Homo sapiens: one gene and its partner. The protein of the gene in region 2 purifies or fractionates together with the protein of the main gene of each other region. This does not show direct contact. Each region holds a gene or a part of one and is shown on either strand. Other genes may lie near its edges.

Region 1 (3,500 bases), on a different chromosome or scaffold from region 2:
GTTGACTTAAACCATTTTCTTAGGGAAGAAGAACTGAGCATATGCGAAATTCATTTATACCGCTCTGCTCCTAACCTGCCTCAGTGTGAATATGTGCTTCTTGACATTGTTGTGAGTGATATGTACTTGCTAGTGTAGTCTTTTTTTTTTTACATGGCATGATTTCATATTTACATTTTCCTGCATAATGACATTTTCTATACACTTGTCATTTTTAATAGCACTATAATTTTCCATCATGTTGACATCCTATAATTTACCTTGTTATTTCTTGATTGCTGAGCGTTTGGGGAGTTTCCAGTTTTTCTTCACAAATAGCACCGTGTTATCTTTAGATAAGTTCATTTTTTTCCCTTTATATTCTTGGATTTATTTCTCAGTGAAATCACCCATTTGAGCAGGAGTGGTGGTGCTGCTCTTGTCACATAGCACCAAACGACATTTCAGAAAGAACAAGCTGATGCGGGCCGTGCCGGCATCACTGCCCCCTCCACCACGTCCCCACCCTGGGACTTAAAAGATTTAAACTTTTTTTTCCAAGTTAAAAAATCTTGGCCGGGCGCGGTGGCTCACGCCTGTAATCCCAGCACTTTGAGAGGCCGAGGCAGGCGGATCACGAGGTCAGGAGATCGAGACCATCTTGGCTAACACGGTGAAACCCCATCTCTACTAAAAATACAAAAAATTAGCCAGGCATGGTGGCGGGTGCCTGTAGTCCCAGCTACTCGGGAGGCTGAGGCAGGAGAATGGCGTGAACCCAGGAGACAGAGCTTGCAGTGAGCCGAGATCGCGCCACTGCACTCCAGCCTGGGCAACAGAGCGAGACTCTGTCTCAAAAAAAAAAAAAAAAAATCTTGGCCGGGTACAGTGGCTCACACCACTAATTCTACACTTTGGGAGGCTAAAATGGACAGATCACTTGAGGCCAGGAGCTCAAGACCAGCCTAGGCCAACACGGCAAAACCCTTCCCTACTAAAAATACGAAAATTACCTGGGTGTGGTGGTGCATGCCTGTAGTTCCAGCCTCTCAGGAGGCTGAGGCGGGAGAATCGGTTGAACCTGAGAGGCGGAGGCTGCAGTGAGCCAGGATCGTGCCACTGCACTCCAGCCTGGGTGACAGAGCAAGGCTCCATCTCAAAAAAAAAAAAATCTTAAATATATACTTTAAAACATTGTCTTTTTTGCTTTAATTCATTGTTAAAAATAGTGTGACATTGAGGGCAAATATTTAAAAGAAAAAAGTCTCCTCTAGTACCTCTCCAGCACACTTACTTTGGTTTTTGTTGTTCCTGCACATCTGCGTGTGTTATTATTATTATTATTATTATTATTATTATTATTATTATTATTATTTTGAGATAGAATTTCCCTCTTGTCAGCCCAGGCTGGAATGCAGTGGCGCAATCTCGGCTTACTGCAACCTCTGTCTCCTGGGCTCAAGCGATTCTCCTGTTTCAGCCTCCCAAGTAGCTGGGATTACAGGCGCCCGCCACCATGCCCAGCTAATTTTTTTTTTTTTAATAGAAACGGGGTTTCACTATGTTGGACAGGCCGGTCTCGAACTCCTGGCCTCAGGTAATCTGCCAGCCTCGGCCTCCCAATGTGCTGGGATTACAGGCATGAGCCACCGTGCCTGACCACCTCCCTCGCTTTCTGAGCTTCCTTGTTTCTTTGCCCACTCAATGCCCACTGAGCATCACTTAGTGGTGTTTGGCGTTCACATCCCTTTGGCTGAGACGGGGTCACCCTCATTTTGGCCCCCAGCCCTGAGCACAGAACCTGGCACCCAGCAGGCATCCAATCCAGCTTTCAAGGTTTTTTTGTTCTGCAAGTGCTGGCTTGAGCAGATCCTTCTGGATTGGCCAGCTGGGATCCTGTGGAAGCCCCAGGGAATCCGTACGCCCCAGGCAAGCCACGCCAGTGTCCAGGGGAGTGACCAGCTTACTTTTCTCCCTCAGGACTTCCTGGGCAGATACCCAGTCTCCAGGCACTCCTGGGTGGGGGCCTGGCGAGGCCCCCAGGGCTGGCACTGGATCGACGAGGCCCCACTCCCGCCCCAGCTGTGAGTGACCACGGGCTTTTCTCCCTCCTCTGCTGTTCTGGATCCTCCATTTCTCCCCAGACTCCACCTCCTTGCTGCTCCCCTAGCCTGGAATGCCACTTGGAAAGCAGCCCACGCCCATGCTCGCGGCCTGGTGCCTGATTAGACCCTGTCGCTTCACTCTTTATTTGGGTTCCCAGCACGTTCACCCAAGCAGGGTTGTCACCCCCATTTTACAGATGCGGGGTCAGCTGCCCAGGGAGGTTTGGGGATTCATCCAGTGCCACGTGGCTGACCAGTGCAGTGACTCACTCAGTGCCCAGGCCGGTAGAGGTGACAGGCACACACGCTGGAGGGTCTGGCTGGGAAGCAAGGCCCCGGCACCCTAAACACCTCTCCTCTTTCCCCTCCCATCCTTTCCCAGACTCCCTGAGGACGGCGAGGACAATCTGGATATCAACTGTGGGGCCCTGGAGGAAGGCACGCTGGTGGCTGCAAACTGCAGCACTCCAAGACCCTGGGTCTGTGCCAAGGGGACCCAGTGATCTGGGCTCTGCCTGGTCCTCAGCCTGCCAGGCAGATGCAGCACCCCCTACAGGGGAGGCCAGTTGAGAGCTTGGGCAGCCTCTTCCTGGACCCAGTTATCCAGGTCTTCATGCTCTGCTCAAGGGGGCCACATGAGCGAGCCTAGGAGCTGGACTTCAACCCAGGAAGATGCATCCGAGGGAAAGGAGATTTTCTATGGCCTCAGGCCTGAGTGCCAATATTAGTCTCCAGCTTCTGTGGATGATCGGTTTGATGACATTGGGATGGTTGTTTAGCATTTCTGTGCCTTGGTTTCATTAAAATGACAATTTCCCCCTAGAGGAAAAAGACAGGGTTAACAACCACAGCGGATTCCAATCTGGGTTCTCATTCCGGCTCATGGAAATGAGTCTGCCGTTGTTCAGTGGCAGTGGGACTTGGCAGGGATAACGTCATTGCTGTGAATTCTACTTCAGGCAGCTGGGTGTACATCGGACACAGCCTACCGGCAGCCTCTGGAAAATTAACCAAGGAAAAGGAGCGGTCAGCCCTGGAAAGAGGGGAGAGCAAGGTTTTCCTTCCCCACCCTGAGAGTTGGCAAAGGGTTGGCAGACAGGAAGGTTCTGGGTGGAGATCCCGCATGTGGGCTGGCCAGCCCCTGGCACGCTGATGCCCAAGGGTGAGACAAGGCAGAGAGGACAGGGCCACCTGGCAGGAGAAGCCAGGAGAGCACCCCAGCTTGGTAGGTGGAAGCTGAGGAGTCTGAGTGAAAAAGGAAATCAGAGAAATGCAGGCACGTTCCAGGCAGCTCTTCTACCCACAGCTGCAGAGACGACCAACCTGAAGATGTCTCCATGCTGGGGTGCAGTGAAGACCTTCAGGCTGGAGGATGTGGCTGACAGAGTTGTGTAGTTCCTTGAGTCCAGCTAGACC
Region 2 (3,438 bases):
ACCTACCAATTTCTATGGTGTAAATACTCTCATCTCAGCCAATTTCAGGCTACTAACTTAATGTCAACCAGCTGAAAACACAACAATATGTTTTCAAGAGCCAGTATAAGTTGGCTCCAATACAGCATGAGCCAGCTCCAGCATAGCACTGCCTGAACAATTTTTAAGTCAGTGAGTACCAAATAGGAGAGGCTAGCAGAGGCTTTGGAGGGACTTTTAAATGTCCCCTCCACCAAGGGAAGCATTTCCATGTTGGTTAGTTTTACTGATTTTTAGTAAAAGAGCATATTATTGGATCCCAAGGTGTTCAAATATTCCACGTGACTCTTAGGAACCTCTCAACAGACTCCCCAGTATCTTGGGAGATTACCAACTGTGGCTTTTCTAATTTCTAAGGGTGACCCTCCAGGAAAACATTCTTTAATTTAACTACCAGTTAAAACCATGTTTGGCTGATCTTTTTTAAAAAATCTATACCTATAGTTCATCACTTGTTTCCCCAACTTTGTCATTTTCCCTATCCACTTGCCCCTCATCCTTCTGACACAATAAAAAAAATACAGGTACCCACAAAACAGTGCCTGCAAAGGAGCAGGGGAAGAACAAGGCACCCAGTAAGCTCACTTGGCTCTACATATCTGGAAAGGCACTGAGGTTCCAAGGTCTCTACCCCACCAGGGGACACCCAGTAAACATCACGCTGAGAGTTTAAGTTGCACTCAACTGGAGTTGATTTGCCCTTAGAAAAGTTTCCAACGGTGAAGAAATACCACTTGGTAGGAATATCTCTGGGCAACTTCATTGCTGACTGGGCAAACTTTGTAGGATAAGGTGTCATGTGATGTAAGGCTGGACCATGAAAAACAAAAATCTACTAATACACATTTGGCCCCTGCAGTCCCCTGGCATTGAGCAATAGAGCAACTGTCCTTTCTCACCACTAGTTGTGAGTGTACTTCCAACTGAGTGTTTAGAAATCAGGTAATCTGGTAATCCACAGAACAAGCTTTGTTTGCAAATTGCAAATTTTTCTGGTAGAAGTCATTCTTAGGTGGGCTTCATTAAATCTTTGGAGAGGCAATGCTGGGAAAAAATATGCCTAATTCCTAGGACACAGTGAGTGGCCGTAAGTTGTTATCTGCATGTACTAAATCAAAATTAGATCATGAAGGACCAAATCTACTTCCGTTGCTATAATAAAATACCCTACAGGTTCTGTAAGGCATTTCTAAACTGTAAATGCTTGAAACGCAAGTTGGACATTTTCTATACTATGTGTAAAATGCCAGGTTATACCTCTATTTTCTTTCTTCCTAATGGTCATTGAAATGAGCTTGTTTCTCTACATTGAGCAAGCTACATTTTATTTTAAATGAGTCAGGTGCATGTTCAGATGTCTGTATTCCCAATACATTGCATGCAGCCTGAGCACAAGTATGCCTTCACCCTCTGGCTCTTTTCCTGACACCAAACAGAGAAGTCCACAGCTACAAGCACAAGGGGCTTGACAGGTAGGCCTTGTTTTATTATGAACAAATTCACCAGAAAACCATTCTTGAGGAACCAGCCACTCCCATAGCATTTTTAGTCTTAGGGAAGAAAATTGGCAGGGAAGAAAAATTGGCAGACAATGGGAAAGAGGTTTGGTCAACCTGCATAAGTGGAATAAAGTCATTGAAGTACTTGCAAAAAGAAGAGGGAGGTTTCCCTCTGAAGGAATCTAGACCATTTTTTAATATGGAGAATAACTGTACCCCATGTTAGAAGTGCTCTTTAGCCATATTTCAAGATCCAGATCTGAACCCATACTGTGCAGAAAAGCACAAGAGCGCTTACAGCCAAGAGCCCTGGGAGGAGTTGAGTAACAGGCTGAGATCCGGTCACCAAGCATCATTAGTTAGCACTGAAATTCTCCCAGGACACAAAACAAATGTATGGAAACATCGCAATACACTATCATTTACTCACATGGGACAACCACCTAAGTCCATAGCAAAACTTTACAGATCTAGATGTTATCTCAAGTCAGGATTCCAGATCAACATCCTCCATGTGGAGATGAGACAACTGAGGTTCAGAAAGTTGGAGTGACTTATTTGCCCAGCTAGCTAACTGGAATTAGAGTCTGGGTCTCCCAACCACTGATTCTGCTACACCACACTGTGCTGCTTCCATTAGTTAGATGGACATTGACAATTAATTGTGAAAGCATTAATTAGAAGTCAAGACAAAAGAATGTTTGTGATATCTTCTCTCGCTTAACATACTTTGATTTCACCATTGCATTTCAGCATTTTAAAGAATAGTGTATCAGTATAGAAGGAGGAGCAAAGCTCTTTAAGAGTAATGATGAAACCAAAAGGTCAAAAAGTAGAAGAATAGCGAATGTAAGTTATTAAATAAATGAGCAAGAAGTATGTGTCAGGGAAAATAAATGCTTCTTATATTGTTAATACCGTGATTCCCTGCCCGCTCACCCCGTCACTCAACACTTGATGCATTTGTTTTGGAAAGTGCCATTTTATGCTGAGATACTGGTATTGAAAACTTCCCTCTTTCCCAACTCTGTCAGAAGTTCTCTTGCTCTTTGGAAGAAGCCGAGGGCCTTAACAAATCAGACTGACCTCCCTTGTGACAGGCAGCCTCGCCTGCCCTTGGAAACAAGCTGCCAGAATGTGAGGGCCACAGAGACCCAAGAGAAGCCAGCACTGCTAGACTGAGGAACTTGTAAATATCTTCTGCTTTCTTGGTGAACAAGGACAGAGGCAATTGCGTGTATATTGTGACTGTAGTTTGTGAAGAAAATGCAACCATTTGCTTCGACAGCTCCTCAAATGTACTTGTTAAGTGTGAATGTGCCTGCCTCATTGCCTTGTGTTCCAAACACAGTACTGAATGCGTTGTTTTTAAATAAACCATTTCGTTTTGCTTTGGGAAACACTGCTGGTTGTCTGTCACATTCGGGAGAGCCCCCACACACACATACACACACATACATGTGCTAACACATACTCACATTTCATCCAGTGAAGAGATTGAATGCTTCCTCCTGTTTTATATTCTCAGTGTTTTGAGGTCGTTGGAAATTTGTAGGACCCCAGAAAGGGTGAGCTTGGCTGTCTACAGCCATGAACAAGCAGGAAATACTCAAAGTCCCTACACATAACTTTTCCATTGGTCCTTTAAATGCTAATCATGTGACAGGCCTTAACATTATTAATAATAATACATTACTCTTGAAAGTTACTATTACATACATCATTTTATTTAATGAATAATCAGGTGAGGGAGAGATGCTGAGGGAGTTGTCCCTGCTGTGCAGTTAAGTGACAAGTCAAAATGAGAACTCAGCCTGACTCCCTGTCCAGTTCTCCTTCCTCTGTACCTTTCACCCCATCCCAGGCTCTCTCTAGATCACCTCCTCATAGAACCTTCCCC

What was found. The genes of interacting proteins can lie anywhere in the genome.
Region 1: the proteins of ST8SIA3 (region 2) and KLRG2 purify together in Homo sapiens (affinity purification with mass spectrometry; 2 studies listed by BioGRID and IntAct, with this or other methods). This does not show direct contact.

Annotation. Positions count from the first base shown.
Region 1 is NC_000007.14:139,452,674-139,456,173, reverse strand, and holds the end of KLRG2 (killer cell lectin-like receptor subfamily G member 2), read left to right. Parts: intron 1-1,959; coding exon 1,960-2,063; intron 2,064-2,466; coding exon 2,467-2,587; 3' UTR 2,588-3,484; downstream 3,485-3,500.
Region 2 is NC_000018.10:57,365,994-57,369,431, forward strand, and holds the end of ST8SIA3 (alpha-N-acetylneuraminate alpha-2,8-sialyltransferase ST8SIA3), read left to right. Parts: 3' UTR 1-2,938; downstream 2,939-3,438. UniProt on the Homo sapiens protein: Catalyzes the transfer of sialic acid from a CMP-linked sialic acid donor onto a terminal alpha-2,3-, alpha-2,6-, or alpha-2,8-linked sialic acid of an acceptor, such as N-linked oligosaccharides of glycoproteins and glycolipids through alpha-2,8-linkages.